Homo sapiens: one gene and its partners. The protein of the gene in region 3 purifies or fractionates together with the protein of the main gene of each other region. This does not show direct contact. Each region holds a gene or a part of one and is shown on either strand. Other genes may lie near its edges. The genes, in order: AKR1A1, AACS, ARFIP1, SEC24A, LYPLA1, FLNB and HAUS2.

The links.
Region 1: the proteins of ARFIP1 (region 3) and AKR1A1 fractionate together in Homo sapiens (co-fractionation; one large-scale study listed by BioGRID). This does not show direct contact.
Region 2: the proteins of ARFIP1 (region 3) and AACS fractionate together in Homo sapiens (co-fractionation; one large-scale study listed by BioGRID). This does not show direct contact.
Region 4: the proteins of ARFIP1 (region 3) and SEC24A fractionate together in Homo sapiens (co-fractionation; one large-scale study listed by BioGRID). This does not show direct contact.
Region 5: the proteins of ARFIP1 (region 3) and LYPLA1 fractionate together in Homo sapiens (co-fractionation; one large-scale study listed by BioGRID). This does not show direct contact.
Region 6: the proteins of ARFIP1 (region 3) and FLNB fractionate together in Homo sapiens (co-fractionation; one large-scale study listed by BioGRID). This does not show direct contact.
Region 7: the proteins of ARFIP1 (region 3) and HAUS2 purify together in Homo sapiens (affinity purification with mass spectrometry; one large-scale study listed by BioGRID and IntAct). This does not show direct contact.

What each region holds. Positions count from the first base shown.
Region 1 is NC_000001.11:45,560,531-45,565,084, forward strand, and holds part of AKR1A1 (aldo-keto reductase family 1 member A1), read left to right. Parts: intron 1-1,258; 5' UTR 1,259-1,264; coding exon 1,265-1,348; intron 1,349-4,554. UniProt on the Homo sapiens protein: Catalyzes the NADPH-dependent reduction of a wide variety of carbonyl-containing compounds to their corresponding alcohols.
Region 2 is NC_000012.12:125,068,353-125,072,906, reverse strand, and holds part of AACS (acetoacetyl-CoA synthetase), read right to left. Parts: intron 1-4,554.
Region 3 is NC_000004.12:152,786,149-152,790,702, reverse strand, and holds part of ARFIP1 (arfaptin-1), read right to left. Parts: intron 1-4,554. UniProt on the Homo sapiens protein: Plays a role in controlling biogenesis of secretory granules at the trans-Golgi network. Mechanistically, binds ARF-GTP at the neck of a growing secretory granule precursor and forms a protective scaffold.
Region 4 is NC_000005.10:134,675,884-134,680,437, reverse strand, and holds part of SEC24A (protein transport protein Sec24A), read right to left. Parts: intron 4,416-4,554; coding exon 4,313-4,415; intron 837-4,312; coding exon 710-836; intron 1-709. UniProt on the Homo sapiens protein: Component of the coat protein complex II (COPII) which promotes the formation of transport vesicles from the endoplasmic reticulum (ER).
Region 5 is NC_000008.11:54,056,250-54,060,803, forward strand, and holds part of LYPLA1 (acyl-protein thioesterase 1), read right to left. Parts: intron 1-4,554. UniProt on the Homo sapiens protein: Acts as an acyl-protein thioesterase. Hydrolyzes fatty acids from S-acylated cysteine residues in proteins such as trimeric G alpha proteins or HRAS.
Region 6 is NC_000003.12:58,164,625-58,169,178, reverse strand, and holds part of FLNB (filamin-B), read right to left. Parts: exon of another isoform or gene 3,064-4,554; intron 740-3,063; coding exon 521-739; intron 1-520. UniProt on the Homo sapiens protein: Connects cell membrane constituents to the actin cytoskeleton. May promote orthogonal branching of actin filaments and links actin filaments to membrane glycoproteins. Anchors various transmembrane proteins to the actin cytoskeleton.
Region 7 is NC_000015.10:42,567,570-42,570,952, reverse strand, and holds the end of HAUS2 (HAUS augmin-like complex subunit 2), read right to left. Parts: 3' UTR 959-3,383; downstream 1-958.

The DNA of each region.
Region 1 (4,554 bases), on a different chromosome or scaffold from region 3:
GCTTAGGAGTTCAAGGCTGCAGTGAGCCATGATCACACCACTGTTCTCCAACCTAGGAGACAGAACCAGACCCTGAGTCTAAAAAAGAGTTCCTTTTTTAGGACTCCCTTTACCTCCCTTGCAGGAGCCCACTCGGGCCTACCAGCATGGCTGACCAGACCTCTGTGAAAGGTACTTGGAGAATCTCTGCAGTTCTTTTTTTTTTTTTTTTTTTTGAGACAAAGTCTCGCTCTGTTGCCCAGGCTGGAGTGCAGTGGTGCAATCTAAGCTCACTGCAACCTCCGCCTCCTGGGTTCAAGTGATTCTCCTGCCTCAGCCTCCCAGGTAGCTGGGACTACAGGCACCCGCCACCACGCCTGGCTAATTTTTTGTATTTTTAGTAGAGATGGTCTTTCACTGAGTTAGCCAGGATGGTCTCGATCTCCTGACCTCGTGATCCACCCGCCTCGGCCTCCCAAAGTGCTGGGATTACAGGCGTGAGCCACCGTGCCTGGCCGAGAATCTCTGTAGTTCTGACAACCTCCTGGGAACATTTATTTCATTCTCAGAGAAGTGGCCCCTTCCTGGGCCTATTCAGTTACCTGGTCTCTCTCTCATAATGGCCTTTGCCTGCCTTACACTGGCTTGAGACCTTATTTAGTCAAGACTGGGTGCTTCTGTGTGGCCACCCTGCTTTTGTTTTTAGATAGTGCAGTTCTTTAACAGAGATCTTTAGCCTGCCACAGAGAAGGGCAGCCAGGCTGGTGGTCTGGTTAGTGTTTGTCCAGGAGCTACTGGCCATGGTTGGTTTTGGGCACCCTGTCTCTGCTGCCTTTGCTCACAGGCACATATATAACCACGTGTTTGTCCTACACATCTGTCCCCTCTTCCCGGCCCATGCTTTGTAGTAGTGAGACAGAGTCTTACTCTGTCACCCAGGCTGGAGTGCAGTGGCGCAATCTCAGCTAACTGCAACCTCCACCTCCCAGGTTCAAGTGATTCTTGTGCCTCAGCCCCCCGAGCAGCTGGGACTACAGGTGCGCGCCACCATGCCTAGATAATTTTTGTATTTTTAGTAGAGATGGGGTTTTACCATGTTGACCCAACTGGTCTTGAACTCTTGACCTCAGGTGATCTGCCCGCCTCAGCCTCCCAAAGTGCTGGGATTACAGGTGTGAGCCACTGCACTTGGCGCTTTGCAGTATTCTTGACAGTGGAAATCTGAGACCTGAACAACAGCACTAACCCCAACACCATTCTCTTCCCATCTGTGTTTCAGGGGGCAATGGCGGCTTCCTGTGTTCTACTGCACACTGGGCAGAAGATGCCTCTGATTGGTCTGGGTACCTGGAAGAGTGAGCCTGGTCAGGTGAGGGATGGGGGAAGAAAAAAGAAACTTGTTGAGCCTCTGCCTGCATTTTCCTAGCAGCCCCACCCCCATACTCCCCTTCCAGCGGGGATGAGCCAGTGGGAAGAGATAAGAGAAGACACCAATTATACATCCTGGGCTTCCCCAGCTGACTCAGAGAGTGGGCTGAGGGGCCCAGCAGGGCTGGGGGCATAGGAAGGACATCTTTCTCTAACTGGATCTGCACTGAGTGCTGTGGCAAACATGGGGCCCCTCTGTGCCCATCCCTATGCTATGACCCCTAATATGGCAGTTATCACCCTGTGCTGTGATCATGTCTCCTCTCCCACACTGGGTTCTTTGAGGGCTCAGCCTCTCCCTACTGCTCAGTCCAGAATTAGGCACATAGCAGGTGTCAAGGTTTGAAGAATAACTAGGTGAATTGTATATTGTATAGACCAAAGGTCAGCAAATTTTTTTTTTTTTTTTTTTTTTTTTACTCGAGACAGGGTCTCGCTCTGTTGCCCAGGCTGGAGTGCAGTGGCACAATCTTGGCTCACGGCAGCCTTGACCTCCTGGGCTCAAGTGACCCTCCCACCTCAGCCTCCTGAGTAGCTGGGACCACAGGCACACACTAACACACGGGCCCAGCAAACTTTTTTTTTTTTTTGAAACCGAGTCTCACTCTGTTCCCCAGGCTGGAGTGCAGTGGCGTGATCTTGGCTCACTGCAACCTCTGCCTCATGGGTTCAAGTGATTCTCCTGCCTCAGCCTCCCGAGTAGCTGGGGCTACAGGCATGAGCCACCACACTTGGCTAATTTTTGTATTTTTAGTAGAGACAGGGTTTTACCATGTTGGCAAGGCTGGTCTTGAACTCCTGACCTCAGGAGATCCACCTGCCTTGGCCTCCCAAAGTGCTGGGATTACAGATGTGAGCCACCTTGCCCGGCCACAAACTATTTTTTAAAGAACAAGATAGGGCCAAGTGTGGTGGCTCATACCTGTAATCCCAGCACTTTGGGACGCCAAGGCAGGAAGATTGCTTGAGCCCAGGAATTTGAGACCAGACTGGGCAACACAGTGAGACCCCCGTCTCTACAAAAAATTAAAAAAATTCGAATGCGCCTGTGGTCCCAGCTACTTGAGAGACTGAGTTAGGGGGATTGCTGGAGCCCTGGAAGTCGAGGCTGCAGTGACCTATGATCATGCCACTGCACTCCAGCCTGGACAGAGCGAGACCATCTTAAAAAAAAAAAAGGTAGGCTGGACACTGTGGCTCACGCCTATAATCCCAGCACTTTGGGAGGCCAAGGCAGGTGGATCACAAGGTCAGGAGTTCGAGACCAGCTTGGCCAACGTGGTGAAACCCCGTCTCTACTAAAAATACAAAAATTAGCCAGGCGTGGTGGCACACACCTGTAATCCCAGCTACTTGGGAGGCTGAGGCATTAGAATTGCTTGAACCTGGGAGGCAGAGGTTGCAGTGAGCCAAAATTACGCCACTGCACTCCAGCCTAGGCAACAGAGCAAGACTCCGTCTAGGGGGAAAAATTAAGGAAAAAAAGTTAAAAAACAATTAGATTCTATTGGACAAGTTACAGATGGAGGTGATTATACACTCATGTGACCTTTTAATATGTAACCACTTAAGCTGGGTGTGGTGGCTCATGCCTGTAATCCCAGCACTTTGGGAGGCTGAGGCAGGCGGATCACCTGAGGTTGGGAGTTCGAGACCAGCCTGACCAACACGGAGAAACCTCATCTCTACTAAAAATGCAAAATTAGCCAGGCGTGGTGGTGCATGCCTGTAATCCCAGCTACTCAGGAGTCTGAGGCAGGAGAATCACTTGAATCCGGGAGGCGGAGGTTGCAGTGAGCCGAGATCGTGCCATTGCACTCCAGCCTGGGCAACAAGAGCAAAACTGCGTCCCAAGAAAAATAATAATAAAATAAATAAGTAACCACTTAAAAATATAAATGTAGTTCTTAACTCAAGAACTGTTAAAGTTGATAATTGACTGACCCCTGGTGTAGACCATCCCAGCTGAGGGGAGTCTGGGAATATGGACCTGCTCTCTCAGGGTGGACGTAGCTATGAGATTTGGCTCCTGCCTGGAATGGGGCATTTCCCCAGGGCTTCTTCCTTCTTCCTTGGAAATCTTGAGTCAGAGTGAAGAGAAGTTTGGGGATTAAGTTTCAGAGAAGCCCCAGCAGAGAGAACAGATTCTTCTATCTGGGATTTAGACTGATGTTTGTGGTGTGCTTGGATGACCTGTGTCTCTTTTCCCTTTTGCTTTCTTTCCTATAGCTGCCAAGGAGCCTGGAGCCAGGGTCCCTGTGCTTTAGGCAGGCACTTCTCACAGCCTCGGAGAAGTCCAGGAGCTAGGTCAAGGCAGAGGGTTGGGGGCCACAGACAAGGCCAAGGCGGGGCATGGAACAGCAGGGGTCAGATGTTAGGGGAAGTACGTCGGCACCCGGGTGGGGATCTTGAATACTATGTCAGGCACCCACAACAAGAGCTTTGGGTGCTTTGTGTCTAGGGCCGGGTACCCTTGTTTCTGCTGCTGATGCCGTGTTTCCAGTCTGGATTTTAGCAAAATTAACTGACCCATCCTTCTATCTGATGCCTGTTTTCTTCTCTCTCATTAGGGAGTTCTGGGTCCAGCTTTTAGCCCACTTATCTGCCTCCAGCTTTCAGCCTACTTATCTGCCTTCCTTAATCTTTTCCCCCTTCTAACCTCTTTTGCTGGCCTGTGCTCCCAGAGTTCCCAGAGTCTGTCTACACAACTCCCTGTATGTCCTTGGCCTAGGAATTTTTTCCTGTGTTTCTCTAACCAGCTCCTTAGAACCTGGAACTTGTTTCCATGGTCTATACTTCTTTTCTCTATTTATCCATCTGTCTTCTGATTGAAAAAAAAAATTATTTATTTTTGAAAATTTTTAAATTTTTATTTATTTATTTATTTATTTAATTTTATTTTTGAGATGGAGTCTTGCTCTGTCGCCCAGGCTGGAGTGCAGTGGCGCAATCTCGCCTCACTGCAAGCTCCGCCTCCTAGGTTCACACCATTCTCCTGCCTCAGCCTCCTGAGTAGCTGGGACTACAGGCACCCCCTACCACGCCCAGCTAATTTTTTGTATTTTTAGTAGAGACGGTGTTTCACCGTGTTAGCCAGGATGGTCTCGATCTCCTGACCTCATGATCCACCCACCTCAGCCTCCCAAA
Region 2 (4,554 bases), on a different chromosome or scaffold from region 3:
GTAAAAGGTCTCCCTCCTTTTATTCCACAACAGTCTAACTTTTATGCCCAGGGGAGTTCCCCCTTGCAGATTCCACTCAGTTATACTCAAAATAACTTTTCCCCACCATCAAGACATGAGCTGGAAACTTGACACAAAGAGATGTATTTAACTCCTAAAGGAAATGTGACTTCACTGAAAAACTAACCCCAGCCTCGCTGAGGACTCTTTACCCTCTCAACTGCCTAGGATCCAAGTGGATTGGCCACAGTGAGCCAATCAGTCCTTAGGGACAGGAGAATTTTATCCTATCGGGGACCAAGGGAAGCCATACAGTGCTTCTGTTTCAAAGCACAGCCTTGCTAGGGCTCCAGGAAGGCAGAGACTGGCAAGGATATAATAACATAACAGGAAGATGGCCAATGGGGTATCAGGAATGGGGGAAAAGGTATAATACAACCGCTGAGCTGAATTATCTCACTGCCATCAGTGAAGTCAAGCTTGCCCATCCTCACTGTTCCCAGCCCCGGTGGGGAAGACAAGAAGAGACACGATGCTCCCTGCCCTTCAGCAGTGTCCCCTCTGACTGTGGTGTCCAGGAATGGTCCTCAGTTATGTTGGACAAGGAGGGATCACAAGAACTGGGGCAGGGACAGCTGAGAGGATCGCTTTAGCCCAGAAGCTCAAGTCTGCAGTGAGCTATGATCCCACCACTGCACTCCAGCCTGGGTGGGCGACAGAGTGAGACCCCATTTAAAAAAAAAAAAAAAGCGCCAGGAGCGGTGGCTCACGCCTGTAATCCCAACCCTTTGGGAGGCCGAGATGGGTGGATTGCTTGAGGTCAGGAGTTTGAGACCAGCCTGACCAACATGGTGAAATCCCATCTCTACTAAATACAAAAAATTAGCTAGGTGTGGTGGTGCATGCCTATAATCCCAGCTACCTGGCAGGCTGAGGCAGGAGAATCTCTTGAACACAGGAGGTAGAGGTTGCAGTGAGCCGAGATCGTGCCACTGCACTCCAGCCTGGGCAACAAGAGCGAAACTCTGTCAACAACAACAACCAAAAAAAAGTATCACAAAAGTGCATTCGCCAACAGCATCACTAAGGAAGGCAGACGCGGCCAGCCCCATGAATCTGGAAGGATGCAGCCACAATGGCCTCTTGACACCACAAGGACCCTGGGAGACGACAGCAAAAGCGGCCGACTTCAGGTGGAAACTTTCCCACTGTCAGCAACTCAGCCCTCTCATCAAATGCGACTCTTCAGACACACTCTTCTGCTCCCACGCTCCCCGCCTCTACCAGGGAGGACGCTGCAACCGCAAGCCCAGGTCTGATTCAGCCTGTGCAAGCTGCTCACACTTAAAAGCCTGTTGTTGCTTTTTTATGGGCTACTTCGTGAATTTGCATCTCCACCTTGTGCAGGGATCATGCAAATTTTTCTACCTAGTATATGTGCTGCCAAAGCAAGCACATAAATCCATTTTTAAATGAAACTCCGGCTTCTCCTGAGAAAAGTGAGTACCTGACTGTGGTCATCAGCCAGTAATTGTCACCTCCAGGCATTCATGGCCCTCTATGGTCCCCTTTCCAACCTGAGAGGGCTGATCTGTGTCACCAACAGGGTATTGTGGAAGTGGCCAAACGTGAGTTCCAAGGCCAGGTTGTAACGGTCACTGCAGCCACATGGCTCTCTTGGGTCACCTGCTCCAGGAGAAGCCAGTGAGGATGCTCACGCAGTCCTAGGTGGCATATGGCAGATGTCTCCTGCACTACCTTGCTGCCACCACCAGCACTAACTTACCGCCATGTGAGTGAGCTCTTGGGGACGGGTGCGTTCCCACTGCAGCCCCTCAGGGACCCTGAGCCAGAACCACCCAACTAGCCACTCCCCAGTCCTGACCCACAGAAACTCAGAGGTGATAAAGGTTTATTCTTGTTTTAAGTCGCTAACTTTTGGGCTGATTTGTCACCAGCAATAGGTAACAAATGCATTGTCCACACCACACAGTGAGGATTAGCTAGAACTGGGAACAGCTGCCTCATCGGGCCCTCAGGCAAATGCCAGAGGCAACAACTAACCAGACGGCAGACTACAGCTCCACTGCCTACAGCTACAAAGTCTTAACTGAGACTTCGTGCCTTGGTTTGTTCAGCTGTGAAATGGGGCTACTACTACCACCTACTTGGTAGGATTACTGAGAGGATTACATTAGTTGATACATATCAGGTGCCAGATGGAGCCCGACATACAGAGAGAGCTCACTGAATAGTAACTATTATTATCTTGGGCACCTGTCTGGTCCCTACAGGCTTCTGAATTTTCAGCCCTTCTTCCTCTCCACCTACGAGAATCTTGGCCAGCCCACACCTTCAAATCTTAGCTGAAGATTTTATCTGCCTCTTTTTTATTATTCATTTTCTTAGAGACAGGATCTTACTCTTCTGCCCAGGCTGGAGTGCAGTGGCATGATCATAGCTCACTGCAGCCTCTAACTCCTGGACTCAAGCAATCCTCTTGCCCCTGCTGCCCAAGTAGCTGAGATTACAGGCTATCCGCCCTTCTAAACCGCATTCTCTGCTAAACCCAGCGCACTGCTGTTGTGCTGGACCCCTGTTAACTCCAATAGATGGCACCAGATTCCAGAGATCTGGAAGCAGTGAGCCAGACACAGGGTTTATTGGAAACTTACCTACAGGGATGGTCTGGGGGCAGCAGGCTGGACAGGAGAACCGCAACCGCTTGTAAAATGCACGCAGTTTATACAGCACCTTCACTCAGCACCCTCCCCTAGCAACTTCCACCTGGTAACCTTTACTTAATCCAAAAGAAAGGGCCTCAATCCCCCTGTAGAGCTTGCATTCCATGGGATGGGCCGGGGGTTCAGATGTTCCTCATAGACAAGGAATAAATCCGGGTTGGCCACTCCTGGATTCCTTAGCTTGGAACTCTGAACACACATTCTTCTGAAGTTACAGCCGTCAGCTGCATCTGTCATACAACAGTGCAGTACTCAGAATGTCAACACCAATGCCCCATTCGTGGAATGCCCAGCGTCCACTAACGTGTGGCACTATCTTCACATGAGCTCTCTCCCCTAGCCACCCGGAGCTATTTGAGAACAGGGCCCAAGCCTTCTATTTGTTGGCAAACTCCATCCCAGCTGCTTGCACAGAGAGCCGACGTGCAGCTTGTGGTACACAGAAGGACACTTGGCACAGTCCTCCAAAAGAGCATGCCTTTGAAACTGGTGCCACCTCCCTGCCTCCTAATTACAGAGGGCTAGTACATGCAGCATGTCTGCCAGAGCTTGCTAGAGGCCTGGAATCACAGGCACATATGCCAGGCTGGAGCTGCAGCCGACCCCAAGGAAGTCTGCATCAGAGGACCCCAGAGCCCCACGTGGATGTGCAGGGAGTGCACAGGTGGCTTCAGCTGGAAGCAGTGACAAGAACCAACCAACCTGTGGTTATGGCAGTGGAAAAGAGGGTGGGTAACCCTACCAGAGCCTCCCAAAATGCAGGGATAGAAACGTCCTGCCAACCTTGGTCTGGGAAGACGGGCTCACGGAGAGGCGGCCGGAGTGGGGAATGCCCCTGCCTTCCTCCCTGAAGCCTGCAGGGCGGGAGCAAGGCTGCTGAGGATGTGTGCCTTGCTCTCTACTGACATCCAGTCCAAAGCATGGCCCCATACTGTATACAGGCTACAAGTGAGCCTCTGCTGGGACACAGAGGAGAGGATACGAGTTCGCGGGCACTGTCTTTAAGCAATAAGAATGCTCACAGCCGGGCGCGGTGGCTCACGCCTGTAATCCCAGCACTTTGGGAGGTCGAGGTGGGTGGATCACAAGGTCAGGAGTTCGAGACCAGCCTGGCCAATATGGTGAAACCCCCGTGTCTACTAAAAATACAAAAAAATTAGCCGGGCTTGGTGTTGCATGCCTGTAATCCCAGCTAATCAGGAGGCTGAGGCAGGAGAACTGCTTGAACCCGGGAGGCGGAGGTTGCAGTAAGCCGAGATCGCGCCACCACACTCCAGCCTGGGTGACAGAGCGAGACTCCATCTCAAAAAAAAAAAAAAGAATGCTCACAAATACACAAAAAGGCAGGGCAGAATGAAAGCCCAAATTACATGTGCTTGGAGAGAAGAGGGAAGGCAGAAATATTCAAAGAGAATAATCAAAAAGAAGATAGCATTTGAGCTGGATCTTCAAGCAAAGCCCAAAGCCTCCAGGGCCAGGAATATGAAAGGGGAGAGTCAGGTGGAAATCACCTTCAAGAGTGGTAAGAGGAGAAAAGGACAAAAACAGTGCTAAATGCCCTCCTCCAAACTAAAGGGAGGGGCCTCACTCAGCTCCGGACAATGCTGCCACGTTGGGAATGCAGACCCAGCATGACAGGCCTTGGGGATCTCAGAGGTTGGAAAGCTTGCTTTTCATATATGGTCTCCCAACTTTTATTTATTTGAGACAGAGTCTTACTCTGTCGCCCAGGCTGCAGTGCAGTGGCGAGATCTCGGCTCACTGCGACCTCCACCTCCTGGGCTCCAGCAACCCTCCCACCTTAGTCTCC
Region 3 (4,554 bases):
AAAAATAGAAAGCCCTGACAAAATAGTTACTTCTGAATTATATGCATAATAAGAAACAATTTAAAAGTTAACCTAACAGATTTTCAACTATGCCTATCTCTACCACCATAACCAACTCTTAGGTAACAAAACTGACTGTCTGCAGAAGTCTTTTTAAATTTCCCCACTCAGACTGTGTTACAGAGAAACCAATGAGAAGTAAAATGATAAGACTCTCAAAACTAAATTACTCTCTGAAAAGAAAACTAGCTGTAAATTAACTCTAAATTATTCAGTATGCTGTGGCCTCATTCTTCATAGATGGCTCAGTTCCAGAACATTAGCAGTGAAGCCAACCAAGAACCAAGAGAGGTGGTCATCTCTGTTGTTGTAATTGATTTCATTCAAAGATCAAACAGGTTACCTGTTATTTGGTATTATCTGAACTGCTTTTGTCCCTTAGCAATGGATAATTGGAGAGTTACTTTTTGTTACTAAATTCCCAAAACCATGTAAAATAAACCCCTTCAATATTCACAGGTAATTTTTTTAATGAAAAATGCTCACAGGAAATAAACTGAAAATATAGCTTAACATATATATAGTTACATATAGAAATATTTATAGATATGTGTATATACATGAGTTAGTGTACACACATATATTTCCTTACTCTGTCCACTGGGAGGGCCTAGAAGCAATGACATTCCAACAGCAATGAGCAAACATAGTGCCCAGATATTGGTTTCTAATACTATTCTCCAATAGAAGGAATCAGTGCTCCTTGGAGAAAAGGCTGATTCTAGGCCTGTGGTAGGTAATACACAAGGTGAGCCTAGAGCATTTTGTAATACCAGAAAGTTAAAAGTGCTCAAAAACAAACAAACAAACAAAACAAGAACAAAAGTCTCACAATGACAGGAGTATGTCAAAGGAATACAGGAACCAACTAAAAGAGCTCCCAGTGGCCACAGCTGAAACAATTTGAGCAACAAAGTAATAAAGTACTACTGGATTTACCCTTAAGTATAAAATAAATATCCATGAGTCAGACTGATATAAATAAACGACTGAAAGGGGAGAATAGACAAAAAACTCTTATAGAAGATTTTTCAAAAATTTATGTAGACACTTCACCCTTAAAGAGGTAAAGCATAATTCCCCAATTCCCAATTGTGTGCTTCACAGAGAGACTTTCTTCTAAAAAGTACAATATACAAAAGGAGGGGGAAAACAGAGTAACTTTACAGTGGACAAAACTGATGAACATTATCTCAAGCCAAGTAGTCAAGGTTAATATCAATGGTACTGTCATATTAATAGTTTGTATTCTTGGCCAGGTACAGTGGCTCACGCCTGTAATCCCAACACTTTGGGAGGCTGAGGTGTGTGGATCACCTGAGGTCAGGAGTTCAAGACCAGCCTGGCCAACATGGTGAAACCTCTCTCTACTAAAAATACAAAAATTAGCCGGGCATGGTGGCATGTACCTGTAGACCCAGCTACTTGGGAGGCTGAGACAGGAAAATCGCTTGAACCCAGGAGGTGGAGGTTGCAGTGAGCCGAGATTGCGTTACTGCACTCCAGCCTGGGCAACAGAGTGAGACTCTACCTCAAAAAAAAAAAAAAAAAAAAAAAAAAAAGTCTGTATTCTTGATATGATGTGATGGGAATGGCACTTTACTTCTGTGATCTTCCTCCTAGAAACATATCACCCAGTCTAATGAGAAAAACAGCAGACAAGTCCCAACTGAGGGACAGTCTACAAAATACCTGACCAGGCAGTAATCTTCAAAACTATCAACTTGTCATCAAAAACAAGGAAATCTGAGAAACTGTCAAAATGAAAGGATACATGACCACTAAAGGTAATATGCTATCCTAGATGGGATCCTTGAACAGAAAAAAAAAAAAAAAAAAAAGACATTGGGGAAAAGTGAGGTAATCTGAATAAAATATGGACTTTAATAATTACGTGCCAATATTGGTTAATTGTGACAAATGTACTATGCTAATGTAGTATGTTTTTGTTTTTGTTTTTTTGAGATGGAGTCTCGCTCTGTCATCCAGGATGGAGTACCGTGGCATAATCTCTGCTCACTGCAACCTCCGCCTCCTGGGCTCAAGTAATCCTCCCACCTCAGCCTCCCAAGTAGCTGAGATCACAGATGGGCACCACCATGCCCAGCTAATTTTTTGTATTTTTGGTAGAGATGGGGTTTCACCATGTTGCCCAGGCTGGTCTTGAACTCCTGAGCTGAAGCAATCCACCTGCCTTGACCTCCCAAAGTGCTAGGATTACTGGCATGAGCCACTGTGCACAGCCTATCTTATAATAGGGGAAAGTGGGTATGGGAAGCTCTATTCTATCTTCACAGTAATTCTGTAAAACTAAAACCATCCAAAAATAAAAGGGTCTATTACAAAATAGTGTAAGAATACTGTGCTATATTGCTATATTTTATATAGCTACTAATAACACATTTTTTGTTTTGAGACGGAGTCTTGCTGTCGCCCAGGCTGGAGTGCAGAGGCACGATCTCGGCTCACTGCAACCTCTGCCTCCCAGGTTCAAACGATCTTCCACCTCAACCTCCCAAGTAGCTGGAATTACAGGTGCAGGTCACCACGCCCAGCTAATCTGTATATGTATATTTTTTAGTAGAGACAGGGTTTCACCATGTTGGCCAGGCTGGTCTTGAACTCCCAACCTCAAGTGATCCACCCACCTCGGCCACCCAAAGTGCTGGGATTACAGGCGTGAGCCACTGTGCCCGGCCTAATAATTTATTTCCATACACTTGAAAGAAATAGTCAAACTGAAAATTTAATTACAGGTTGATTATCCCTTTTCCAAAATGTTTGAGACTAGAAATGTTTTGGATTTCAGATTTTTTTGGCATTTGGAATATTTCCATATGCATAATGAGGTATCTTCAGGAAGGGACCCAAGTGTAAACACAAAATTCATTTACATTTCATATACACCTTATACACATAGCTTGAAGGTAATTTTATATAATACTTTTAATAATTTTTTGCATGAAACAAAGTTTGTATACACTGTACCATCCAAAAGCAAAGGTGTCACTATCTCAGCCACTCATGTGGACAGTCTGTGGTTGTTTGACATCACTATCATTCCCGTCTCTGAATTTATATGCTACGTATAACCAATCATTTCTTACACATACACATGGCATTGTATTGCCCTTTGCGGGCATGCTTGCGTAGGTGCATCTGGCTGTGTGAGGAAAAGATATATGGCAGCTGAAGGGGGCTAGGCAGGTCTTTTTTCTCTTGGAGAAACTGTTGTACACCTGCATTCTGACTTTGATTCATCACATAAAGTTGGGTGTAGAATTATGTACTTGTAGCATCATGTTGGGCTCAAAAAAGTTTTGAATTTTGCAGCATTTTGGATTTCAAGTTTTTGGATTAGGAATGTTCAAACTGTACTACCATTTTAACACTATTTTTATAAAAATTCATATTCAAATTCTTGTATTACAAAACTCGATGAACTGAAATCCTTAATACCATTAACTTGGAAATTTAATGAGTCAAATTTAGGTGTCAGGTACTGAGCTAGGTTCTAGGGATTCAAAAATGAGCCAAAAAAGAAAACAAGATATGGACCTTACCTTCATGAAGTTTATAGGCCACTGAACAGAAAGAAAATCTTACAGTCACATGAATAAATGTAAATTGCAAACTGCGGGAAATGTATGATGCTATTACCTTAATGTGGGAAGTGAGCATATTCTCTAAGGATGCAAAACTTCAGCTGAGGTGTGAAGGATGACTAGGAACTAACAAGTGAAATGAAATGAAAGTAAAGAAAGAATGGTCCAGACAGAGAGAAAAGCATGTACAAAAGCCTTGCAAAAATGGCAGGGAGCAAGGTGCATACAAAGGACTAAAGAAGGCCAGCATGGTTGAACTGGAGAGTTATGCAGAACATGGTACAAGATGAGTCTGGAGAGCTAAAGGCTGTTAAGCAGTTTTATTTTGATCCTAGAAGCAATGGAAAGCCATAAAAGCACTGGGGGAGGAAGAAGGAGAGTGATAATCCAATGTGTGTTTCAAAATAAATCACTGTGCCTTCAAGATGGGTAATGAATTAGAGAGGACAGATAAGAATGGAGGCTATTGTAAAAGTTTCAGGCAAGATGAAGTGGCAGTAGTGGAAACAGGAAGAAATAGAAAAATTCAAGAGTCATGTAGAAAGTAAGACTTTAAAAACTTGTTCAATCATTGGATCTATCAGGGAGAGGGAATTAAGGATCACTTCTAGTTTTCTGGATTTTACAATGAAAAGATAATTGTGTCATTCACTGAAAAAAGGAACAAAGAAAGAACCAACGTTGTGCAGTTTTGTAGGGAGGGAAGGGGAAATCAGTTTCATTTTAGACATACTGGATTTGAGATACCTTTAAGATATTCAAGAAAGGATGTCAACAAGACAGCAAGACATACAGATCTACAGCTCAAAGCAGACAGAAAACACTCATGCCCTTAATGAAGCTGACATCTTTATCCTAGAAAAGCAGCTAACTATAATCCCCAAATATC
Region 4 (4,554 bases), on a different chromosome or scaffold from region 3:
TCGCTTGAACCTGGGAGGCGGAGGTTGCAGTGAGCCAAGATCGTGCCACTGCACTCAAGCCTGGGCAACAGAGTGAGACTCCATCTCAAAAACAAAAACAAAAACAAAACTCTTATATTCCTCTATTTCTCAAATCTTTCAAATAGACACTGTGGATACTGGCATACCCACTTCCTTCTCTAATACTAACAGAACCCTGTTGATTACATTATAGTCCTCAAATAAAAACTGTGACATAGTTATTGAGAGAAATCTCCTCCTCCTCAATTACTGAGAAAACTACATTCAACTAACCTTCTAGCACTGCCTACTTCCCTTCATTCAGCAGTGAATGAATTGGGCAGCTATTCTGTGGACTTATTTTCTTTCACCCTAGAGAAAAGGCGTGGGACAATTTCTAAATAAAAATGTTTCTTAAATTCCTGGCTTAAGTAATACCATGAAATATACCACTTATTATATACCCAATACAATGTAAAAATGGGATATCCATGTAATACTATCATTATTTTTTGCTTAAAAAATAAATAATTAAATTTATTTATAAATATAAACGCACAGAAAAAAGTTACCTGTAGTTTTCTCTGAGTGGAAGGATTGACTAGAGGTAAATAAAAGGGTTTTTTTTTTTTAACTGTGCATTTGTATCATCTGATTTCCCTACAATGCAAGTAGAAACGTTTAAATGTTTCAAAAAAGCATCCCATACCATCATTGACTCGATAACATAAGTTACACTTCCATCTCCTTTGATCAAGAAAGCTGACGAAAGGATTGATGTACGTCCTGCATGAACGGCATCTCACAATTGTACTGGAGGTAACCACAGGCAATTGCTGGAAAAAAAAAAACAGAATTAAATTTTTAAAGGCAAAAATCATCATGTTGAAAACATAAGCATGAATCCATCCTGTCTAAATAACTGTTGGGATATTATCATTTTAGAGAAAACTTAGAGTACAAGATGTATCTAAACTGCCATACACAAAAACCATGTAGTTGAAATGTATTAATTTTAAACCCTACTATTTTGCTCCAAGACCATTCTCATTAAAAGTTGTCTTAAAAAAAAAAATTATTGGCTGGGGACAGTGGCTCACATGTGTAACTCCAGCACTTTGGGAGCCAAGGCGGAAGGATTGCTTGAGGCCAGGAGTTTGAGACCGGCCTGGGCAACATAGTGAAACATGACCCTCTCAAAAGATTTAAAAAATTAGCCCAGTGTGGTGAGCTGGGTTGAAGTGGGAGCATCACTTGAGCCTGGGAGGTCAAGGCTGCAGTGAGCCATGACTGAGCCACTGCACTCCAACATGGGCAACAGAGCAAGACCCAGTCTCAAAAAATAAAATAAAATAAAAATGTAAAAACCATTTTTTTCCTCATTAAACACTCATATTGCAAAACCAAAATAGCAGGCCAGGCACAGTGGCTAACACCTATGTCTAAAATCCCAGCACTCTGGTGGGAGGCCAAGGCAGGAAGATTACTTGAGGCCAGGAGTTTGAGACCAACCTGGGCAAGAAAGTAAGACCCTGTCTCTATTTTAAAAATAAAAATAGGCTGGGCGTGGTGGCTCATGCCTGTAATCCCAGCACTTTGGGAGGCCAAGGCGGGTGGAACGCGAGGTCAGGAGTTCAAGACCAGCCTGGCCAACGTGGTGAAACCTCGTCTATACTAAAAATACAAAAATTAGCTAGGCGTAGTGGCAGGTGCCTATAATCCCAGCTACTCAGGAGGCTGAGGCAGGAGAATTGCTTCAACCCTGGGAGGCAGAGGTTGCAGTGAGCCAAGATTACACCACTGTACTCCAGCCTGGGCAACAGAGCAAGACTCCATCTTGGAAATAAATTAAAAAAATATATATATATATATCCCAGTGCTTTGGAAGGCCAAAGCAGGAGGATCACTTGAGGCTGGGAGGTAGAGACCAACCTGAGCAACACAGCAACAGCCCATCTCTACCAAAAAAAAAGAGTTTTTAAATAAATAAATAATAAGTTAAAAAAATAAAACCAAGATGGTAAATTTACAATGTACTTTTGGCATAAATGGCAAAGAAAAAAAAATCAACATTCTAAAATATATGACCAATGAAACTATTACAAAGTTTGTTGATGTTACATTAAGAAGCTTACTTAGTTCTCAACTATAATAAAGTAAGGTGAGGTTAATTTAAATAACCAGTTAAACTTTGGAATTACACTCCTAGTTAAAGTTTATCCTACATATTAAAAGTTCTAAAGTCTTAGCTGGGTATAGTGGCCAATGCCTACAGTACCACTTACTCTGTCTGGAGGCTGAGGCAGGAGGACTGCTTGAGCCCAAGAGTTCAAGGCTGCAGTGAGCTATGATCATGGAACTGCACTCTAACCTGGGTGACAACGAGAGACCCGGTCTCTAATAAATAAATAAATAAATAACAGTAAATACGTGGGAAGGGTCTTTGTAAGACTATCAGATTTGGGGAGATTTGTTTTGATTTACCAGAAACCCTGAGACAGGTGAACACTGATCAACTTAACTGAGAGCCAGTGCCTTGGACAACAAAGTGACATAGCATCTCATCTTTAAAGAAAGGTTTTATTTATCTTTTTTTTTTTTTTTGAGACAGTCTCACTCTATTGCCCAGACTGGAGTACAGTGTGGGATCTTGGCTCACTGCAACCTCCACCTCCCGGGTTCAAGCGATTCCCTTGCCTCAGCCTCCCCAGTAGCTGGGATTATAGGTGTGCATCACCATGCTTGGCTAAATTTTCTATTTCTGGTAGAGACGAGTTTCACCACGTTGGCCAGGCTGGTCTTGAATTCCTGACCTCAGGTGATCTGCCCGCCTCAGCCTCCCAAAGTGCTAGGATTACAGGTGTGAGCCACTGCACCTGGCCTTTATTTTTTTTTTTTAAGATAAGGATCTCATACCCAATCCTGGGCAATGCAGTTAAGACTCTGCTTCTTAAAAAAAAAAAAAAAAATCAATACAGGCAATAAAATTATATCACCACCAAAAAAATCCTATCACCAAAAGTAGTGTGTTTTGGGAAAGTCAGCAATCCTCAAGAGTATGTGGCCACAGAGCTTTAGGACAAAGGTAGATCAGTTTCTTTTTTCTTCTGAAATAACTTTTCTTTTTGGATACAGGGTCTCACTCTGCCACCCAGGCTGGAGTGCAGTAGTACAATCATGTCTCACTGCAGCCTCAACCTCCTGGGCTCAAGTGATCCTCCCACCTTAGCCTCCCGAGTAGCCAGGACTAAGCTGGTCTTGAACTCATAGACCCAAGCAATTCTCCCACCTTGGCCTCCAAAAGTGCTGGGATTACAGGCCATGAGCCACCATGTCTGGCTTAAAACAACTTTTTAAAATAACAAATTTTACTGCAAGGATGGCAGAACGGGGAGACTAGGGTAAAGTACTTTAATGGGTAAATAATTCACAACCTATTAAAATAGTATGATTCATTTATTTAGTTTCTCTCAGTACCTCTATTCTATTCAGTACTTTTTGAATTTTCCAGCAATATACTTACTTTACCTAGTATTTGAAAGTGTTTAGTAATAAAATTTTTGGTTGAATTGTAAGTAATCTGTCAATCATCGACTTCCTAAAGACAGATCAAACAAATTCTATATGTAATTCTTGCATCATTGCAGAAAATTTTCATCACCAAGATAATTTTGCACAAAAGACATTTACCTTCACTAAAGAGGCCGGGTGTAGTGGCTCAGGCCTATAAATCCCAGCACTTTGGGAGGTGGGCAGATCACTTGAGGTCAGTTCGAGACCAGTCTGGCCAACATGGTGAAACACCATCTCTACTAAAAATAAAAAAATTAGCTGGGTGTGGTGGCAGATGCCTATAATGCCAGCTACTTAGGAAGCTGAGGCAAGAGAATTGCCCGAACCTGGGAGGCGGAGATTGCGGTGAGCCGAGATCTCGCCACTACACTCCAGCCTGGGCGACAGTGAGACCCAGTCTCAGAAAAAAAAAAAAAAAAAAAAAAAGAGCCGGGCGCAGAGGCTCACGCCTGTAATTCCAGCACTTTGGGAGGCCAAGGCAGGTGGATCACGAGGTCAGGAGTTCAAGACCAGCCTGGCCAAGATGGTGAAACCCCCTCTCTACTAAAAATACAAAAATTAGCCAGGCACGGTGGCAGGCACCTGTAATCCCAGCTACTAGGGAGGCTGAGGCAGGAAAATCACTTGAACATGGAGGGCAGAGGTTGCAATAAGCTGAGACTGCGTCACTGCACTCCAGCCTGGGCGACAGAGGGAGACTCCGTCTCAAAAAAAAAAAAAGAAAAGAAAAGAAACATACCACTAAGTCTTTGAAAGGATGAAGCAGCAGCCCCAAAGGAAGTTTGGCTTTATTCAATAAGGCCTGCGTCTGAGGAATGCTAGTCAGCGTGCATCGAAATAACCTATATCAAAGTAAAAAGTATGTATCAGTTGCTGCTATGATTATTTTTGAAGAAAACAACAACAAAGATTTAAAAGGTATACATTTTAATACTGGATCAGATTACAGATGAAATATTTCAATAGAGTCTCAAAATTTTA
Region 5 (4,554 bases), on a different chromosome or scaffold from region 3:
CAGAAGAATAAAATTAGACCCTATCTCTTGCTGTATACAAAAATCAAATCACAATAAACACTTAAATCTAAGATCTCAAACTATGAAACTACTACGAGAAAAAATTGGGGAAAATCTCCAGGACATTGGTCTGGGCAAAAATTTCTTGAGAAATACCCCACAAGCATATCAACCAAAGCAAAAATGGACAAATGGGATCACATCAAGTTAAAAAGCTTCTGCACAGCAAAGGATACAATCAACAAAGTGAGGAGACAACCCACAGAATGGGAGAAAATATTTGGAAACTACCCATCTGAGAAGGGATTAATAACCAGAATATATAAGGAGCTTTAACAACTCTATAGGAAAAAAATCTAATAATCTGATCAAAAAATGGGCCAGGCCGGGCACAGTGGCTCATGCCTGCAATCCCAGCACTTTGGGAGACCGAGGAGGGTGGGTTACGAGGTCAAGTGATCAAGACCATCCTGCCCAACGTGGTGAAACCCCGTATCTACTACAGATTAAAAAATTAGCTGGGCATGGTGGTGCGCACCTGTAGTCGCAGCTACTTGGGAGGCTGAGGCAGGAGAATCACTTGAACTCGGGAGACGGAGGTTGCAGTGAGCCAAGATTGCACCACTGCACCCCAGCCTGGCGAAAGAGCAAGACTCTGTCTCAAAACAAACAAGAACAAAAAAAACGGGCCAAAGATCTGAATAGACATTTCCGAAAAGATGACATAAAAATGGCAAACAGGCATATGAAAAGGTGCCCAACATCACTGATCGCCAGCAAAATGCAAATCAAAACTACAATGAAATATCGTCTCACCCCAGTTAAAATGGTTTTTATTCAAAAGACAGTTAATAGCAAATGCTGGCAAGGATGTGGAGAAAAGAGAACCCTCATACACTGTTGGTGGGAATGTAAATTAGTACAACTACTATGGGGAACAGTTTGGAGGTTCCTCAAATAACTAAAAATTGAGCTACCATATGAACCAGCAATCCCACTGGATATATACTCAAAAGAAAGTATCTTTCTTTTAACTATATTTGGGTATATATCTTTTGGGATATATACCCAAAAGAAAGGAAATCAGTATATTGAAGAGATATCTGTACTCCCATGTTTGTTGTAGCACTGTTCCCAATAGCCAAGATTTGGAAGTAACCTATGTGTCCATCAACAGATGACTGGATGAAGAAAATGTGGTACATATGCACAATGAAGTACTATTCAGCCATAAAAAAAGAATGAGATCCAGTCATTTGCAACAACACAAGTGGAACTGGAGATCATTATGTTAAGGGAAATAAGCCAGACACAGAAAGACAAACATTGCATGTTCTCACTTTTTTGTGGGATCTAAAACTAACTGAACTAACAGACACAGACAGTAGTAGAAGTATGGTTATCAGAGGCTGGAAGGGTAGAAGGGGGCTGGAGGTGAGGTGTAGCTAGTTAATGGGTACAAAAAAAATAGAATAAGACCTACCATTTGACAGTACAATAGGGTGACTATAGTCAATAGTAACTTAGTGTACATTTTAAAATAACTTACAAGAGTGTAAATGGATTCTTTGTAACTCAAAGGATAAACGCTTGAGGGGATGGACACCCCATTCTCCATGATGTGCTTATTTCACATTGCATCCCTGTATCAAAACATCTCACGTACATATAAATATGTACACCTATGTACTCACAAAAATTGAAAATAAAAAAATAAAATTTTAATTAAAACTTCAATAATTTCCCATTAAATATTTTGTTAACAACAGTTCTTTCTCTCATCAAGAGATGGATTTTTAAAAAATTAATAGTTAATTCTGCTCATATATATTCCATGTTTCTCTCTTCAATGAACCATAGGCATTTGTACCTAAAAGTTGTCATTTTAAAATTGTACGTAGTTAAGTGTTTAAAATTGTACGTAGTTAAGTGTTGTACGTAGTTAAGTTAATGGTTTAAAAAGTGTTTAAAACCATTCATTCTATTGTTTTTTAAAAAAAATCACAGAATTGGCCAGGCACAGTGGCTCACGCCTGTAATCCCAGCACTTTGGAAGGCTGAGGCCAGCAGATCAACTTGAGGCCAGGAGTTTGAGACCAGCCTGGCCAACATGGTGAAACACCGTCTGTACTAAAAATACAAAACGTAGCCGGGCATGGTGGCACAGGCCTGTAGTCCTAGCTACTTGGGAGGCTGAGACAGGAGAATAACTTGAACCCAGGAGGTGGAGGTTGCAGTGAGCTGAGATTGCGCCACTGCACTCCAGCCTGAGCAAGAGAGCAAGACTCCATCTCAAAAACAAACAAAAAAAAACCAGAATAAATCTCTTTTGCTCGCTCACACTCTCTCTCTGTGTCTCTGTCTCTGTCTCTCTCTCTCTCTCTCTCAAAACAGGGTCTCACTCTGTTGCTGACCTCTCAGGCTCAAGCAATCCTCCCACCTCAGACTCTCAAGCAGCTGAGGGGGCCACAGACATGCGCCACCACGCCCAGCTAATTTTGTTTTTTTTTTTGTAGCGACTCTTGCCCAGGCTGGTTTTGAACCCCTGGGCTCAAGTGATCCTCCTGCCTCAGCCTCTCAAAGTGCTAGGATTACAGGTATGAGCAACATCCCTTGGCCTCAATCACCTTTCACCTAAGGGTAAGGGCACTATGTACCCCCAACTATGTAACCTGAGCACTGTCTTCTTTGTTCAGTAGCACATTCTCTTTTGTTTTTTCTTTCCTGGCTGAGTCTGATTCTAATTTTCTCTGAGAGGAATTTTCAGAGAGGAAAGAAGTAACAAGTATTTCATAGGCCAACTCTATTGTTAGGACAGAATCTTTCATTCTGGACCTCATGAGGCCCACGTATCTTCTTCACAGGGCCCAGGCCCTCCCTGTTTTCCATAGCATCTAACACTTACCCTCATACTTTTGTCATCTATTATTTTCAGACAAAATCCCAACTCTAGGATTCTAACTCTAATCTACTTTTTAATGATCCCATAAGTCAGTGTTGTTGGTTTGACATTCCCAAATATCTCACATCTTTTGAATGTATTTTCCCTGTTTTTTTTTTTTTTTTGAGACGGAGTCTCGCTCTGTTGCCCAGGCCGGACTGCGGACTGCAGTGGCGCAATCTCGGCTCACTGCAAGCTCCGCTTCCCGGGTTCACGCCATTCTCCTGCCTCAGCCTCCCGAGTAGCTGGGACTACAGGCGCCCGCCACCGCGCCCGGCTAATTTTTTGTATTTTTAGTAGAGACGGGGTTTCACCTTGTTAGCCAGGATGGTCTCGATCTCCTGACCTCATGATCCACCCGCCTCGGCCTCCCAAAGTGCTGGGATTACAGGCGTGAGCCACCGCGCCCGGCCATTTTCCCTGTTTTAAAGACCTTAAAGAGTTCTTTTAAAACAAAAGGGCTGCGCTCAGTGGCTCATGCCTGTAATCCCAGTACTTTTGGGGAGGATCACCTGAGGGCAAGAGTTTCCCACCAGCCTGGACAACATAATGAGAATTCATCTCTACAAAACAGTTTAAAAATTAGCCAGGCATGGTGGCACATGCCTGTAGTCCCAGCTACTCAGAAGCTGAGGCGGGAGAGTTGCTGGAGACCAGGAATTTGAGGCTGCAGTGAGATATGATCACCAACTGTACTCTAACCTGGGCGACAGTCTCTAAGTAACTATGTAAATAAAAAATTACCAAAAAGCAAAACAATTCACAGCCAGCCTGCCTTGCCATTGCTGCCCACACCCACCTACACCCACCCACACTCAAGAGTCACCAACCAGATTTTCCTGAAGGCAATCCCAGTCCTCACATTATTATACTTGTCAATATTTCAGTACACATATGTAAAAGAAAAGCACATTCCTGTGCACCTGTGCATTTCTTTCTTTCTTTTTTTCCTGAGACGGAGTTTCACTCTTGTTGCCCAGGCTGGAGTGCAACAGTGGGATCTCAGCTCACTGTAGCCTCTGCCTCCCAGGTTCAAACAATTCTCCTGGCTCAGCCTCCCAAGTAGCTGGGATTACGGGCAGGCGCTACCATGCCCGGCTAATTTTGTATTTATAATAGAGACGGGGTTTCTCCATGTTGGTCAGCCTGATCTCGAACTCTCGACCTCAGGCGATCCGCCTGCCTCAGCCTCCCAAAGTGCTGGGATTACAGGTGTGAGCCACCGTGCCCGGCCTCCTGTGCATTTGTTAAAAATAGACACGTCCCAGTAAGTTAGTATTCTGTTTCTCCCTCCGAACAACTAGAATTACCATAATCATAAAGGAGATGGACTCCTAACCAGAGACCAGGCTTTCGAGGTTTTGTAAAGCAGAGCTAATACTTCACAGCGGTGTCAAATGAGGTGCCCTGTAAGAAACACCTAGCTTGTAAACAGTTATGTGCTCAATCAGTGGCACGTGTTATTATTACCGCACTAACATTAACAACTTTTTTCTTCCTTTTTTTTTTTTTTTTTTTTTGAGACACAGTCTCCCTCTGTCACCCAGGCTGGAGTGCAATGGCACAACCTCAGCTCACTGCAACCTCCACCTACTGGGTTCAAGCGATTCTCC
Region 6 (4,554 bases), on a different chromosome or scaffold from region 3:
CTGAATTTTCTAATTTTCCTGCGATGAACCTACATTCTTTATGTAACAGTGAATCATGACGTGTGGAAGGGATTTACTACAGTGTTTATGGTGGTTACCTTGGGTGGTGGCTGTGAAGTGGTTTTCATAGTTTGGTATTTTTTCCAGTGTTTTGGAGGAGACACATTTTTATAAGTATAGGAAAACTTTTTGATTATTTTTCAAGTGAAAATTAGAAATCAGGGGATTTTTCAGACCCTGATCTAAACAAATACGTAAGATTTCAATATGTATTCTTTCCTGTTAGAGATAGAAAACCACCTAACATCCTAACATGCTTTCTCAACTTCTGCACGGCTCCACTCTGTGGACTTTTGTAAGTTTCAAACACTGCCCTCTGACATCTCATACTATTTACTGACATTCAAAGTTCAAAGTAGCTTTAACACATCTAAAACCATCCATAGTTTCCACTATGATTGATCTGACACAACCAGCTCCCCAGGAAGGGAGAGTAACTCCGAAGGTGGTTGTTCGTTACCTGTCACCTTGGCCTTGAAGGGACTGCCCACGATGTGGTTGGGCCCACCGTATTTGACGCTGATCAGGTAGTTACCAGGAGCCATGGGGGTGTACATGACTTTGTACCCTTCAGGTGTTTCCTGGCAATCCATTTTAACCTTGGATGGGCCTTCGATGGTGACGGATAATGTCCCTGGACCTGCTCGGGTGGTGTTAATAAAGAATTCCGACTGGATACCTGGGAGAAAGGAATAGAAAATGCTGTGTTGATGACTTGGAGGGCTTTCCTGGGAGCACTGAGGCCGTGGTGAGGGACACACATAGATCCCCTTACAGAGGGCTCACCCTGGTGGCATGGGAACCCACTGGCACTAGCTCTGAACTTCTGGCAGAGAGAACCTCAGGCCCTGCGGGGTGGGGGCTCCCTTTTCTAGGCCAAGGCAGGAGGAGCATGGCTGACATTTCGCCCACAAGCACCAACAGCCTGGACACCCTGTTCTCTCCTCTGGGCATGAGCCATTGTGGCTGAGGGCAAGAAGCCTGAGTCACACTGTGAGCCTGAAGTGCTGCTTCAGCCACCAGAGTCCAGCTCTCCCTCCAGGGGTGTGGGGGAGGCGTGGGCCCCTCTGACTGTCCTTTCTTCTCCGGGTAGACTTGGAGAAGCCAGGGAGGCCAAGCATCTCCTCCCTTCCTCCTCAGCCCTCACCCCAGGCACTGTGCTGCAGACCGGGTGCAGCCACTGTGACCTGCCAGCCCACCCACTTTGCCGTGAATTCCAGCAACAAGCACAGGAACAGAACAGCAGCTCCCGCTGACGGGGCATGCGTACCCCACTCCGGCTCCAGGTCCTGTGCACAGCACCATTTACGCATGTGGTATGGAATCCTTTCCGTGATTCCTGCTTCACAAATGACTCTGCGGCTCAGGGAGGGGGCCAGTCACGCTACACAACCAGAAAGTGGTAGAGCCGGGTTTGAACCATGTCTGCATGGCTCTGGTGCCAGGCTCATCTCTTGACCCCTGGATGGGCAGTGGAGCTGCCTCAGATCCCCTAACTGCAGCCCTGAGACAACTTAGCTGGCCCAGGGAGAGCCTCCTTCAGTCATCAGGTCTGGCGCATGCCTGCTACAGTGCCCTCTATGGGGCATGCCTGGCATAGCATCCCCATGCAGGGCTATGCTTCTGCCAGAGCCCTAGACACTGCCCCAGCTGGGAAATATTTTGGTTTAATTATAGCTCCTAGTCCAGAGAAAGAATTATTGTTCTGGATATCAATAAAAACAAAAGAGCTGCTATCGTGCAACTCTCAAACACAACCCAGCTGTTCCTGGAAGCTCTTGAGGCTCCTGCCCCAAGGTCCACCCCCAACACTATCTCAACCTCATCATGGTATCTAATCTGTGCAGCCAAGAAGCCCCTCAAGCAGCAGCTCTGAGGCCTGGGGCTACGTAGGGAAGAAGCGGGAGGTGAGCAACAAGGAGACAGTGTGTCCATCCAGGAAGCAGCTGTAAGGTGATGATAAGGAAAGATATTTTATTGATTGATTGATTGAGATAGAGTCTCGCTCTGTTGCCCAGGCTGGAGTGCAGTACCATGATCTTGGCTTATTGCAACCTCCGCCTCCCAGGTTCAAGCGATTCTCCTGCTTCAGCTTCCTGATTAGCTGGGATTACAGGCACTCGCCACCATGCCCAGCTAATTTTTGTATTTCTTTAGTAGAGATGGGGTCTCACCATGTTGGCCAGGCTGGTCTTGAGCTCCTGACCTCAAGTGATCTGCCCACCTTGGTCTCCCAAAGTGCTAGGATTACAGGCATGAGCCAACGCACCCGGCCTTATTACTAATATTTTTTTTTTTAGATAAAGTCTTCCTCTGTTGCCCAGGCTGGAGTACGGTGGCATGATCACAGCTCACCACAGCGTCAATCTTCCAGGCTCAAGCCATCCTCCTGCCTCAGCCTCCAAAGTAGCTGGGACTTCAGGCATGCACCACCACGCCTGGCTAATTTTTAAATTTTTTTGTAGAGATGGGGTTTTGCTGTGTTGCCTGGGCTGGTCTCAAACTCCTAGGCTCAAGTGATCCTCCCACCTCCACCTCCCAAAGTGCTGGGATTACAGGTGTGAGCCACTGTGCCAGGCCAAAAAGATATTTTTAAAGTGAAGTTGAAATGATGTGGCTGCAGGGGAAAGTTCCACCATTTTTTAACAAGCTGTTTCATTCCTAAGTTCGTCTTTAAAAATTTTTTTTTTTGGTAGAGATGGAGTTTTACTATGTCACCCAGGCTGGTCTCAAACTCTTGGCCTCAAACAATCTTTCTGCCTTGGCCTTCCAAAGTGCTTTGATTACAGGCATGAGCCACCGCACCCATTTGGCCCTAATGCAATATTTTGACCAACCAAAAATCAGTTCATCTTGACTGTGAGGGCCCAAAAGGGCAGGGAAGACGAGGTGGGAAAAGAGAAAGCAGGGGTTATGGGACAAGAGCTACTACTTGGCTGTTACCTCCTCTACAGCTCCAAACAAGCCTATTAGGTGGGTCCTGTTATTAATCCTGTTTTACAGGAAAGGAAGCAGAGGCACAGTGAAGTCAGATAATTCATCTGGAGTCACACAGCTGGGGACCAGCAGAACTGGGATTTAAACATAAAGTCTGTCCAACTTGGAGCTAAAGCACTTACCTGAGAGAAGATGGAAGGAAAAAAATCCACAAGCAGAAGTCTCTCACCACTGCCTCTAGCTATAACCTGTATCTGACACCACAAAACATCTCTGGGCGTGGCGGTCTTCCCCCACCCCCTCAAATATGTCCAGCTCAGTTCCTGTGAGTTTAATGCATGTTAAACGCAGCACTGCTTGTTCTTCAAGGCAGTTAAGGAAGGAGGCCCTTCTGGTATACCCCGAGCACACTGGGGTTCCTGGACCATTTCATTAGGAAAATTGCTCAGCGGCTCCAAAGAATCTGGAGCTCCCTGGTCTATCTCCCAGCCTCTCAAGCCGCCTCCAGCAGGGTCCCGCCCCAAATTCTCCACATTCCCCTACTCCAAAATCTACAGAATGGACCATTTAAAGCTTGAGCCAAGAGATACAGCAAACTCACCCATTAAAAACAGAGGGAGGTTTGCTTTGTTCAGAAGGTCAGGATACTGGGCGCTCTGGCGGCCAAGCACAGATACCTTTTCATTCCATGCACACTGCAGCTGTGTAATCTCAGAATGGATATTTAGGGAAAGGCTTGGGAGCAGGAGGGCTGGAAAAACAAGGCGCCTTCCCTGTGACAAGAGCAATATTTACACAGGGTTTGAAGCAGGCGGTTCTGTACCTCTCCCCTCCTGGCTAGGAGCTTCCCTGCAAGAGCAACTCCTTCTCTCAGCAGCGTCCAGCACTTGCAGAGCACAGCCTGAAACCCAAGCTCCCAAAAAGGTGTGCGAACAGCCAAAAGGAAATGGGAGAGGGCCCAGGCACAGCGGCATGAGCCAGCAGGAGGGTGAGATGCTTCCTGGCCAGTGTGGGAGACCCCAGCAGCTGCTGTGAGGCCTGGCCTGAAGCCTGCCACGCGCTCCAAGTGCCGAGAGGACCCCACCTGGGCCCTCAAAGGTGAGTACCTTGTCAGGGCCCAAGTGCCAGCACTGCTGCCTGGAAAGTACTCCTGAGTGGCTGGGAGGACAGGGGTCCTGGTTTAGGACATCCCCAAAGTGGGCTGGGGATGCAGTCACTGCCTCTGGGTGAGCCAGCCACTTAGAGAGGGGGCCAAGCTCGGGGGTTCAGCGCATAGGCTCTGAGGTCACGGATGTAGACTGATTCCTGGTTCTGCCTCCTCCCAGCTGACTGCTTTTTGGGGGAGTGTTGTTTGGGGAGTGACTCAACCTCTGCATCTCACTTTCCACATCTGTAAAATGGACATCACTTACGGTAAAATGATACCATGCCTTTCACAAAAGGCAAGCCGCAGGCCCAGAGTTCAGCGTGGAGCCGGGCTGGATTTGCCTGGGGAGTCTGGCAGCACTCACACCACCCCTGTGGGTGGCTTTGCTGAGGCCACTGCTTTGGCCAGAG
Region 7 (3,383 bases), on a different chromosome or scaffold from region 3:
GTCTAATGCATAATTTTTTTAGTAAACTCAATTAGTGGATTCCCCAAATTGTGAGATAAATCTTTTATGTAAATTCATGTGTTTTACAGATATGTGAAGAAATCCCACAATACACTAATTACAGTCTTATTAAAATCTCAACTCTATTATAGATTTTGCATGTCAAGAAATCTTTTAGGTTCTGCTATTCCTCAGACTGTTCCTGACTTCATTGAGGGTTTCAGAGGATAAATCAGGGGTCAGACTGGTAGAGTCACATAGAGAAAGAAAGAAAATAAGAAAAATGCTAGGAAAACCAGGCAGCATCTCAATTCCTCCAGAATGGTCTTCACAAACTGGCATCACTGTTATGCTGGCAATAAATTTGCAAATCTCACACACCTCTTCTAGTGTAAGTAGGAAACACAGACATTCAGGCTAGGTGCAAGGGGCTAACACCTGTAATCCCAGCACTTTGGGAGGCCAAGATTGCTTGAACCCAGGAGTTCAAGACCAGCCTGGGCAACACGACGAGACCTCATCTCAACAAAAAAATTTAAAAGTTAGCTGGGTGTGGTGGGGCACAGTTGTAGTCCCAGCTACTTGGGAGGCTGAGGTGGAAGGATCCATTGAGCCCAGGAGGTTCAGAGTGCAGTGGGCTATGATTGTGCCACTGCACTCCAGCCTGGGTGAGAGCAAGACCATCTAAAAAACAAGAACAACAACAACAACAAAAAAAGGCATGCAGAGCTAATTTTTTTTTAATATCCACACATCTAAAAGTTGAATAATTAAAGAAAAATTAATCAGCACTGATTGACTCTGGAAGAGTATTAAATTAGCTTTCTCTTTGAAGTAGACCTCAGGCTTAACTTACCTCAAGCTCTTTTGATTCTGAGAGCCTATATGCCTATACTGTATAAGTTAAACAGTGCATCAGTCCTTTCTATCACTTTAAATTCAGACTAGGACTAAAAAATTTTAGTTAGAAATTACAAGTTTATTTTTATATTTTGAAAAAGGCATAATAGAAAACAAAAATAAACAACCAGGCATATCAATATTTGTGACATACACATACACACAAAAATGAATATAGGAAATAACACGAAGAAAAAGCATAGTATGTTTTGAAACCAACGTGGGGTATGAACAGATTTTTGATGAAATACAACTAAAGGTTTTAAGTGTCTATGTAATGTTCGAGATATTACGATCACTCTTATCCTACTAGCAAAAATTAGCAAACTAGGCTTTAAAACATGATTCCTGTTGTTTTAGCAGGATTTATTTTGGTAATGATCCTGCTTCCTTATAAACAACTACTTATCATTGTTGAAGTCTTCTTGTGTTAAGGAGTACAATGAGGCCAGGCGCAGTGGCTAACACCTGTACTCCCAGCACTTTCGGAGGCTGAGGCGGGAGGGTCGTTTGAACCCAGGAGTTCAAGACCAGCCTCAACAACATGGCAAAACTCTGTCTCTACAGAAAATACAAAAATTAGCCAGGCGTGGTGGCGCGTGCCTATAGTCCCAGCTACTTGGGAGGCTGAGGTGGGAGGATCACTTGAGCCTGAGAGGTCAAGGCTGCAGTGAGGTCAAGATTGGGCCACACCACACTCTCAGCAACCTGGGTGACAGAGTGAGATCCTGTCTTTAAAAAAAAAAAAAAAAAAAGGAAAGAAAAGAACAAAACAAAAAACAAAACTGATGTACATGTTTTAAAGCAAAATAGAACCCCAAGTCTAAAAGTAAAATAAGCCAAGGTTAGTTACAATACTGATTAAAAAGAGTATATCCTGAGGCAGTTGTTAGTATATCACTCTCTATTATATGCACAATAACCTCTGATAGGTAAAATATCTGAGCATTTTGCAAGGTAAACCTCCAAAGTTATACCACAGTGTGCCTTTTTCTTTGCTGTTTCTTCTTTGCCTATTCCTACAGCTACCAGTAAACACTTAGGAACTGCTTTGTATGCCAGGGTCTCCAAGACTACCTCCAGGTTCCATGATTTGCTAGGAGAATTCACAAGACTCAGCATATCATCACACAGCTATGATTTATTACAGCAAAAGCATATGAAGCAAAACAGCAAAGAGAAAAGGTACAGAGGCAAAGTCTGGGGGAAACCAGGTATAAGCTTCCAGAGTCCTCTAACAGTGGAGTCACACATATCTGTTGTTTCATTCCACCAGCAACTGAATTGTGACAACATGTGAGAAATGTTGTTTACCAGGGAAACTTGTTAGAGATACAGTGCCCAGGGTTTTTACTGGGGGCTGGTCACGTAGGTACCTTCTACCTACCATGTACCAAAATTCTAGACTCCCAGGAAGAAAGCAGGTTTTCAGCACAAACCACAGGTTAGCTACCATGAACGACTCTTTTCAGTGAGTGGAGCCCTCCTGTTAAGGTTTAAATATGTCCCCCAAAGTTCAAGTGTTGGAAATTTAATTGACATTGTAAAAGTGTTATGAGACCTTTAAAAAGTAATTAGGTAAGGAGGGCTTTGCCCTCATTAATGAATTAGTGCTGCTATCTTGGGAGTGGGCTCATGATAAAAGGCTAAGTTTAGACCCATATATCTTTCTCATGCTCACTTGCCATGTGGTGCCTTCTGCCATGGCAAGACCCTCACTAGATGCTGGCACCATGTTCTTGGACTGCCTAGCCTCCACACCTGTCAACCAAATAAACTTCTGTTCATTATAAAATACTTAGTTTGTGTAATTCTGTTATGACAGCAGAACAGACTAAGATACCTTCTGATATCTAAGTTCCCAGATGCAACAGCTGAGGACAAACCTTATAATCAGGCCTTTCAAAGGATAAGTCAGGCTGGCTGTGTTACTCTTTTCTGCATACTTAGTGACATTCCCACAGGAATAATCATCATAGACATTTTCAGATTCAAGAAGACCCTTCTAATTCAGAAACACCTTTTTTTTTTTTTTTTAAGACAGAGTCTTGCTCTGTTGCCCAGGCTAGAGTGCGGTGGCACGATCTGGGCTCACTGCAACCTCTGCCTCCTGGGTTCAAGTGATTCTCCTGCCTCAGCCTCCTGAGTAGCTGGGATTACAGGCACATGCTACCATGCCTGGCTAATTTTTGTATTTTTTATTTTTTTGGAGATGGAGTCTTGCTCCATCACCCAGGTTGGAGTGCAGAGGCACGATCTTGGCTTACTGCAACCTCTGCCTCCTGGGTTCAAGCGATTATTCTGCCTCAGCCTCCCAAGTAGCTGGGATTACAGGCGTCCACCACCATGCCCGGTTAATTTTTTATATTTCTACCAGAGATGGGGTTTCACCATGTTGTCAAGGCTGGTCTCAAACTCCTGACCTCAGGTGATCCACCCATCTGGGTCGGCCTCCCAAAGTGTTGGGATTACAGGTGTGAGCC